Linked DNA regions of Homo sapiens: regions 2 and 3 are each reported to be linked to region 1. The links are microRNA targets in miRTarBase. Many come from high-throughput screens and were not tested one by one. Region 1 holds a microRNA gene; each other region holds the end of a gene's coding sequence.

The links. The annotated mature microRNA hsa-miR-6817-3p reads UCUCUCUGACUCCAUGGCA and lies in region 1 at 2,196-2,214, opposite strand. An mRNA with a match to its seed (bases 2 to 7 or 8) in the 3' UTR can be bound and repressed. Matches are read on the target gene's strand: a 7mer-m8 pairs with bases 2 to 8, a 7mer-A1 pairs with bases 2 to 7 and ends in A, and an 8mer does both.
Region 2: miRTarBase lists C1orf115 as a target of hsa-miR-6817-3p. Seed matches in the 3' UTR shown: 7mer-A1 at 1,682-1,688 and 7mer-A1 at 1,569-1,575.
Region 3: the mRNA of LHX9 is a reported target of hsa-miR-6817-3p. Seed matches in the 3' UTR shown: 7mer-A1 at 35-41, 7mer-A1 at 33-39, 7mer-A1 at 31-37, 7mer-A1 at 29-35 and 7mer-A1 at 27-33.

Annotation. Positions count from the first base shown.
Region 1 is chr22:25,454,767-25,457,905 of GRCh38, reverse strand. It overlaps MIR6817 (microRNA 6817), which reads right to left and starts at 2,260; the gene lies at 2,195-2,260. It also overlaps the pseudogene CRYBB2P1. RefSeq lists an enhancer at 2,090-2,193.
Region 2 is chr1:220,696,223-220,699,361 of GRCh38, reverse strand. It overlaps C1orf115 (chromosome 1 open reading frame 115), which reads right to left. Exons shown (of 2, transcript NM_024709.5): 2 at 209-2,750. The coding sequence ends at 2,631. Among named protein-coding and RNA genes, the nearest start is that of C1orf115, 7.4 kb to the right of the region's middle. RefSeq lists an enhancer at 1,758-2,957.
Region 3 is chr1:197,928,987-197,932,125 of GRCh38, reverse strand. It overlaps LHX9 (LIM homeobox 9), which reads right to left. Exons shown (of 5, transcript NM_020204.3): 5 at 1-3,124. The coding sequence ends at 2,867. Among named protein-coding and RNA genes, the nearest start is that of LHX9, 13 kb to the right of the region's middle.

The DNA.
Region 1 (3,139 bases):
CCAAATTTTTTACCATGAGAAATCCCTCACTGCTGATGGCCAGGGTCGATGTGCCCAGGAACTTCGATTCAGTGGAAAATGACACCTCCTGTTCCCAAACTTAGGGACACAAGTGGTCAAAGGCAGCATGGGCTGGTCCTCCTGCTTCTCATAGCTTTCAGACTACTCAACTCATTCCTTCCCTCCTGCCTCAACCTAATCCTCCCTCTGCCTCAACTTGCCCCTCTGACATACATGTCTTGCTCACTGGGGCTGAGGTTAAGGCCAAGGTTTCTCCACTCCAAAGGCATACCATTTCCCCAAAGGCAGCTCTAGAAAGAAATTCAGCGGCTGTAAGCCACCTATGGGCAGAGAATTCCCATTTACTTTCCAGTGGGAAGCCAGAGGTCAGCAGAGCACATTGATGTGTGCAAGATCACCAGTGTGTACAGGGCAGAGCAGGACTTAGGACCCCAGAGTCTCAGTTCCTGGGGCAGGGTGAGCCAGGGCTGGCAATGCACTTACATGCCACTCCGCACCCACACAGATGACACCTTCTCCTGGTAGCCATGGGCGTGGAAGCTGGGTACATCGTCATCTATGATTTCCATCTTCTTCCCGGTGAAGTTGGGGTTTTCATAGAGGATGATCTTGTGCTCTTGGCTGTCCTATTGGCAGAGGATGGGGGGAAGTGAGTATGGGTGAGGGGGCCCAGGGTTGGCCTTCCCACCCCATGCTCATGCCCCAGAGTTGGGATCAGCATGTCCCACACATCACTCTCTTCCCAATGCACCCACTACGTGTCTATGACCACTGCTGTTGGATCACAGCCGTTTGTTAAGTTTCTACTGGGCCATTTTCATGTAACAGACACTCTGCAACACTTTGGGGAATGTTTGATTCTGAAATGTCATTTTTTCCTCCTCAAGTTTCTCTTTTATAAATGGTGGCTACGATCTACCTACCCACCCACATATGAACACCCACACATACACACACACGCACACCCACACAAGCGTGCACACATACAGGCACACACGCACACTTGCACACACACACGCGCGCGCACACGTGCACACCCACACATGTACACACACATGCACACCCACACATGTGTGCACACACGTGCACACTTGCACACACACACGTGCACACACATGCACACCCACACATGTACACACACACATGCACAGGCTAACTGTGCCTCTAATAGGCACCTGAGATACTTTGATTTTTCTTCATTTCTACATCTCTTCCCATCCTCCTGTCCCTATGACATTTTCCTTAGTTATCTCATCTCATCCTTTACACATAAAACCCTTATCCCTCAGACATAAAATCCTCTTATGCCATTTAGCAGATGAGGAAAGTGCGGCACAGAGAGGTCAAATGACGTGCTCAAGGCCACACAGCTGGGAGCAGCACAGCCAACTTGGGAACCCAGGTCTGTGGGGTGCAAAGTCCAGTGTTCTCCAACCTTCCAGTAGGTCCTGGGAGGAGCTAGACTGGGCTTGGAGGGTTTGAGAGTGTAACTGAGCAGTGATGGGCCCTGTCCCCTTCCTGAGAGTTGACACTCTCACACACTAGTAAGAATCAGGATCTCAGAAGCACTGAAAACTCACACTGGCACGAGTCTTGAAGAAGAGCTAAACCACCTTCTCCTCCAGCCCCAAACTCATAATTTCTTGTAGTATTTCTGATGGCTATTGGTTATTGAGCAATGACGGGAGTTGCCCAACCCTTGGGCGCGGGGGGCGGGCACCAACCACCTAAAATAGAATGTGAATAGTGCCCTCTGGAGCATTTCATAGTCTTGTGATTGGAGCCTTCTGGAGTTGCAGTGTGACAACCCTCAAGCTAATAAGCACATTGGAACCTCAGGACAGTAGATACCAATATGCCCATTTTACAGATGAAGAAACTGAGGCTCAGGGAAGTAAAATGACTTTTGCAAGGTCACCCAGTGAGGAGGTTCCTCACCAATCAGAAGGGGCACAATGCTAGAGGGGCGGGCTCCTTCCTGGTCCCAGGACCTCCTGCTCCAAGGTGGCAGAGAGAGAAAGTAGGATGATGGCAGGGGGCTCACCACTTTGATGGGCCTCAGGCTGCTGAGTCTGTCCTCTGGCTGCTGGTCCACCAGTCCCAGTGGGCGTACTCGCCCTTCTCAAACACAAACTGCTCGCCCTTGCAGTTGGCCTGTTCATAGCTCACCCAGCTGCCATGGAGTCAGAGAGAAAGGGGGCAGGTCAGTTCCACTCCAAGCTTCCTATGGCAGAATCCTGGCTACTGATGTTGACCCCTAGGGTTCACTCTTGCCCAGCCCGGCAAGATGTAATAGCCCCACCCAAACCTTAGCACAGCAAATCCAAGTGCAAAATCCCCTCAGTTATCTAGAACTCAGTGCTATGCTGCCTTTACCCACCTGGAACACAGTTAAGAAATAAGAAGGCAGTCTAAATAACGGCCCAGCAACAAATACCAATATATAGACGCCATGCACTAAAGCCAATAGTATGCTGGTAAGTTAATAGCCAACTCTCAAAAAACAAAACGAAAATTAACACTCTTGATTTGCAGCGTTTGCCAATTTCCATGGTGTAAATGCTCCCACTGTGGCAGATTTCAAGCTATCAATACGACACGGCTGCAAGTGAAGTTAGGAAGAGAGATGCACAGTCAGCCTTCACCACTGAGAACTGACTCTAGAACATCTCTGGGCCCAAAGCCCCTCTCTTTGGATCTGTTTCTTCTCTTGTTCCTGTTGTTAGACTCTGCCCAAACTCTGTTTTTGTAGATCCACATTAGAAGAAAAATAGTACATTAAAGAGGAAGGGATGGCTTTCAGGTCGGGCATGGCTAATAGAAGAAAGCAGAAAATAGAAGAAAGAAGGCACAAATCTCAAAATGATTAGCATTCTGGGACCAACCAGTGCAGAGGCGAACATTTCAGCAATGTGCAATAATGGCTTTTCAGAGGAATGATCTAAGTCATTAACAAAAGAGGAGATCATGTTTATTATCCTCTTTTGGAAAAGTAGTCTTGATCCAGCAATTCTACTTCAGGCAATGGTTCCTTACAAAACAGTTGTCAAGGGGCTGGGCACTGTGGCTTATGCCTATAATCCCAGCACTCTGGGAAGCTGAGGTGGGCAGATCACCT
Region 2 (3,139 bases), not on the chromosome of region 1:
ACACACATGCAGAGTTCCCAGGTGAATTGGGGTCTCTCCCTCCCCTGGGTCCTTGGGGAGCAGCTGTGGGCTCCTACTGGTTCCCAGGGAGGTCTCTCCCGACTGGTCATCACCTGCTGTGCCAGGCTCTCAGTGTGGCTGGACTCCAGGAATCTCCCTCAGGCAAGGCTAGAAAGTGAGGAGCTGGGAACCCTTCACACCAGAAACATTACATAAATCGAGGCTTTTATTTACATCATAGGACAAGAAAAGGATACAAAAGAAGTCTCTTGGTCAAGCACATCAAGCGAAAGCTCTAAAACTCAATACTCAGTAAGGTGTGGGCACTGATATTGAAAAAAAGAAAAAAAAAGAAAGAAAAGGTAAAAAGGTAATCTGTGACACAATCCAAATGCTTACACTCCAGGGATTGAGTAAGAGAAACCCAGGGCAGCCCTGCCACAGAGAATGACGGCTCAGGTTGAGTGACATCTGAGATTCATCTTCTGTACCCGTGAACCTGACTCCCAGGACAACCCCTAGGAGGTTTTGACTTTTGACATTAGTGAGTTAATTCTTAACCAGATTCTTAAGAATTTCAGGGCCAAACAGGCTTGAATGTACGGTTTTTCCAATTTGGGGGATGGGAGTGGGGAAGCTCTTCCTGGGACAGATTCCCAGGCAAGGAAAGGCCCCAGCAGCTCTGTCCCCTACCCTGGGCTCTGCCTCCATCTCCCCACGAGAAACTTGTGGGCTGCCTGGGGCTCGTCAGCAGCCTGCACAGGCTCTCACTCTCTTTCCCACTCACTATGCTTGGCTTTTTCTTCCACTTATGACTATCTCTCCCTTTCTCCAACACCCAGTGTTGTGGGGCAAGCTGTAATTATCTCACGTGTGTGAAAATGTGCCATATCCACTTTCATCATCTGGGCTAAAACCAGATCACTTGTTTCACTTTTCCTCACAAATATTAACAATGCAGGAATTGGGTCCCAGTGAATCTTCGACATGAAGTTGAAGCTTCAGGAAGTGAAGCAGAGTCTAGCTCCACAGCTTCAACCTTCTCCTCTACCCCTTCCTTTTTTCTGTCTGTCTTTCTGTCTGTCTTGGTAGGGCTTGATTAGAGAAGCATGAGCGTTGAGGCCTCCTTTGTATGCCTTGGGACAACAGGTAGGTGCTGTCACTGGTCCTGCAGACTGTTCAGCAACAGCCCCTTTGGATTTCTGGATATTCTGGAAACAAAGTCAGAACAGTGGCCTACTGGGGGGTTGGCAGAGGGGTATGGTAAGAGGACCTCCTTTCATCTCCCTGTTCAGCATCCGATGGCAGTCCACAGGTCATCCTTGGTGGGTGTCAGGCCCAAGACCCATGCCCACCTTACCCTTTGAATCCAGGTGAGATGAGATCAAACCAGGCAGCACAGAAGAAGACAGGATGCTACAAAGGCAGCCAATGAGCTCATGGCCTCAGGGGTTTTAAGCACCAGCCCTGGCTACCCAGCCTCCCTTGTCCCTACCTAGAGGCACAGGCCCAGCCTACCTGAACTCCCTCACACTGATGCTCCAGACCTGGCTCCTGGACAGCAAACTTCTCTCTTCCAATGTCCTCTTGCCTCATTTCCATTTCCTTCACATCTGTCTCCTACTTACTGGTTCCTTCTCTAAATCTGTATTTTCATTCCTGGGTGTTATGTCTCCCCCCATCTCTCTCAGCCCCTATGTCCCACCCAGGACAAAGCACTCTTAGTTGGACTGGCAGAGAGGAGCTGAGCCAATGGCGGGAGTGCGCTGATGGTGCTAGTAGCACCCTGACCACAGCCAGCCACACCTTTGCAGGGACTCTGGTCGCTGCAAACACGTGGCTGGGCCGAAGTGGGCAATGCCAGGCAGAAGAGCCCTCCAGAGTAGTCCCTTAGCCAACCTGTCCCAGCCACCCAGCCTGCATCTGAACTTGCCCTTCTTCCTCCTTCCTCGCCAGCTTCACAGTCATGCAGGGATGGGGTAAAATGACAAGGTTTTATCTACTTTAAACAGTCATGCCACACTGCCAACACAGTTTTCAAAGCATCAAGATATCTTTTCTTCCTTTCTTCTCCTCAAGCCTGTAATTAAACTCCTGGTGACAGAGTGGTAGAGGAAGGAGATCGGGGAGCATGACTTGAGGAATAAACAGCTCCTTAGCTGCCCTCAGAACCGAGGCAGCCAAGGAATGTGAGCGCCTGTCAGCCTACGACCTTTCAGGAGAATACAGCAAATCATCTGACTCTAGTAACATCCTCTTCCTCCCCCAAGATCACTGTTCTGCTGCACACCCACACTGCTTGCATCTGTTGAGTGTTGGCTTCCGCCCCAGTGCCTGCCACCTTCACGTGAAGGCTCTGGCTTTAGCACGCTAGCTCCACTCCCAAACCTAACCTCCGCCGAATTCTCTGCAGGATTGACCACTGGGTCCACGTGTGACTGAGAGATGTGAGAAGCTCAGCAGATGGGCAGGGATGACTCACTCATCATACTAATGTGATTCAACAAAGAAAGGCATGTTTTCTCTTCCAAATATGCTGTGTGTTCAAGTCTGAGATGCTCCAGGATTCACAAAGTTCCCACAGCAGGGGCTCCCGTTCACTCTGGGGGCACCTGCCACAGCAGCTCCCATTAGCGCACGAAGGATACCACGCTGGTGGCTACCGCAAACGGGGCGGAGTAGGCTGCAGCGAAGCCTTGCAGGCCGATGACCACGTAGCGGCATCCTTTGATGATGACCTTCCCGACATTCTAGTGTTAGGAATAAAAGAGAAAAGCAAAGGATTAGGGTAGGCAACTTTTTAATTCTGCCATCTTTCATGAAAAAAAATGAGTCACGGCGACATATATAAAGATCATTTTTCCTGATTCTCTTGTGACAAATCAGCAAGTTACCACATTCCCACATCTCTGGTGGAAGGTGCCCACCTCCAGCCTAAGAATATGTAGCGGCTCACAGCAGACATCATCACCTTGCAAAGTGCTTTCAAGCACAGCTTATTTCCAGATAATTCAAAGACCTTCTTGGAAACAGCAGTAAGGCTGCTAATTCTAAAACTAAAGCAGTTTTATTTTGTTTTTTAAACCAAAGATCACTCCTCTTCTCTGTTCCAGCTAAAAATTACTGGACCGTCAGAAGG
Region 3 (3,139 bases), not on the chromosome of region 1:
TTAACATTCAGTAAATGACATTTAAGTCTCTCTCTCTCTCTTTTTTTTTGGCTTAATAAATTTTTTAATGTATGATTATCATAACCTAATAGTGTCTTTGTCTTCACTGCAGTGGATTTCCGATCAAACTTTTCCCCTTCTTTTAATACTTTAGGGAATTTTCAAACGTCGGGATGTTTGGCTGTAATGCCCCAAGATTTGTTCTCCCTGAAAAAAATCATAGTGACAATTTATTAACTACAGAGCAACTTGGCTTTTAGGGGTCTGCAATTTCTATTTAGATTTACAAATATCCATTTGTGCTCAATAGACCTAACATGAAATCTTAATCATATTTAAGGTTTCGTTCCATGCAATTACTTTATATGCTAATTAGCCTTTTTATTCTAAAAATTGGACTGAGTCAAATCAGTGGGGCATTACTTTTGTTATAAGCAAATATATTCAAAGGTATTTCTAGGTTGAATTACACTGCCTGTGCAACAATGTGTAACATTTCATATGAATCAGAAGTTTGGAAGTCTAAAAACTATTTGTATGTTTAAATATTTCTAACAATGTTGTATTACCATTTGAAAAGCTTTTACATATAGATGCTGGAACACACTAGTACGGTTAAAACTTAAATAAAACTGATGGGAAAGAAAACTCCTTAGATTCAAAATGTTTTATTCACACAAATTTAATAGGATATATCACAATTGTTTGGTCCATAAATATTTAGGGGAAATAGTTTCTATACAATGCATTTATCAATAAACAAAGAAACATGGACAATTTTGCTAGACCACTTACTGTACTATAAACACGAAGCTCAATATATAAGATTATTGAATTTATCAACTATATTTGAAAGAGTGCACAACTGCTTTCTATGACATGTTTGTCCCCTCTAACAGGATACACCATAAAAAGAGTTTCAGAAATAAGAGGTAAAACAGTACAAAACTAGTGAGGTGTTAAAAGGGCTTAAAACAGTTAATTTAACAAACAACACATATATCCTGATTTTTCACAAACTTACTTCCAAGTTATATCATAAGGCACATAGGAGAACTGAGTTATAATTAGTCTACTTAATAAAGTAGATCTATATAGTACCATATATTGTTCTGTCAAAGAACAAAATTTATAAGTGTCAATATTTTACCTGTAAAAGTGTATTAATAAGATCTCAGCCTTACCAAGGTTGTTTGGTCTGGTTAGTGGTAAATGCCCAAAATGTAATAGAAGTATGAAAAGTCAAGATTTAAGCTCCATATAAGATGATAACCATACTTGCTAAATATATAATGGCAATCACACCTTTCTTCTGTTACAGTGTTAACTTATCTTCCATCATCTTTTTTTAAAAAATAAGCTACTTTCTGTGCTAATTTTCTAAAGACCCTGAGCAAAAGTTACAATAATGCACTTTAATGTGGGCAGTGAACTGTCAATATGTAACCACACATTTATACAGCCAGAAGGACACCTTTAAAATCTATTAAATAGCCACTTCGACCACCAAAGGAGATTTAAGGGGTCCAAAAAGTGGAAAATATGTGCAAAGTTATTCTTAACAATCCACTAAAGCAAGACATATATCTTGACTTCTTTTTTATTTTTTTAGGAAATCCACAATCTAATTGGTATTTAACTACAACAGAAGCGTAATAGATGAACATTCACCACTGCCCAGACCATTAAGATTTTAGCTTAAATTAAAAGAAAAAAATGCTACTGTAAACTAGGAAATATATTCAGATCAGCATCCACAAGGCTTCTGAGTTTATCTACTTTAAGACTAATAACTTCAAATCTCTAATATCAGAAAAATTATTTTCAATACATAAGTCAACCTATGTCAAAATAAAATAAAACAAAACAAAACCAATTGTTGGTATAAGTCTACCAGGCTGGGTATTTTAAACATTATTCATATAGAATGCCAGATACAATATCATGGTACAGCTGAAGCCAATTAATAGAGCTATTAATTAAATTATATTGATTTTTTTACTTCTTAAAACATTATATTTTGCTTATTTCCATTTTCCCTGGGAAAAAAAGTAACTAGAAAGAATGGTTTCCGAGCTATTGTTTTTAGCTTTAGGAGGTTAAAAGTATGGAATGTCAAAATCAATGCGGAATTTTCATGGATACATAGGGAGCTTAAGTATTTTTCAAATGTTGAAAAACAAATAACCAAGTAAAAAGTTTTTAGAGTTGTACACCCCTAAGAGAAGGAAAAGTCACATTCCTGTAATAGATTTCTCACCTAATTAATCATTACTATTTAAAATGTCTGTAGTTAATGCTTTTATTTCATCATATTCCTCACTTGAATTAACAGTTCAGGTAAGAAATAGAAATACTAAAAACAAGTTTTCAGTTTTAAGATTTAAAAAATGTAACGTTTTCAAAACTCCATAATCACACATACAATTGCAAGATTTAAAAAGTAACTAATTAATTATCTGGTTCTTTATTAACCTAATCATTTAAGTGGGAATATGATTATTTGCCCATAATAATACCACTCTTTTTTCTTTTTTCTTCGAGATTCTGGAAATAAGTAACATACAATTTTAAGAGGCACTTATTAGAATTATTCAAAAACTCTCCTTACCAACTGAAAGACCTAATTAATTTTTTTAAATCCAAATACACTTTGTAGACAAAATATATTCACTTAAAGGAGACAATACTGTAAACTCATTTGCCAAGTGGCTGCAGATGCTACACACCAAGCTGTTATTTTTATTCCCCAAATATCTTGTGGGTTAGAAGAAAAAAAAAGTCTTGTAAATAATAAAATAATAATAATTAGAATAATAATAAAAAGAAGAGGAAGAATTTAAAAACTAAAAAAAAAAAACCAATGTTAGAAAAGGTTTGTTAAGGTAGTTTGTGAGGGGCTTCCGGATTCGTGGCTGTCCATGTTAGAGGTCACGGATGTCACTACAGTGATAGTGGGATTGGTCAGGTCTGTTAAAGTGGTCGCAGTGCCGGGTGGAGTGAGAGCTCCGCTGTCTGCTGAGGGCGGGGCCGGAAGCGACGTGCCGTCAGCTTTATCAACACCCCCATTCTCCTGCCGCAAAAGGTTCCTTCTGAATTTGGCTCGTGCGTTTTGGAACCAAACCTGCAAACCAATCCC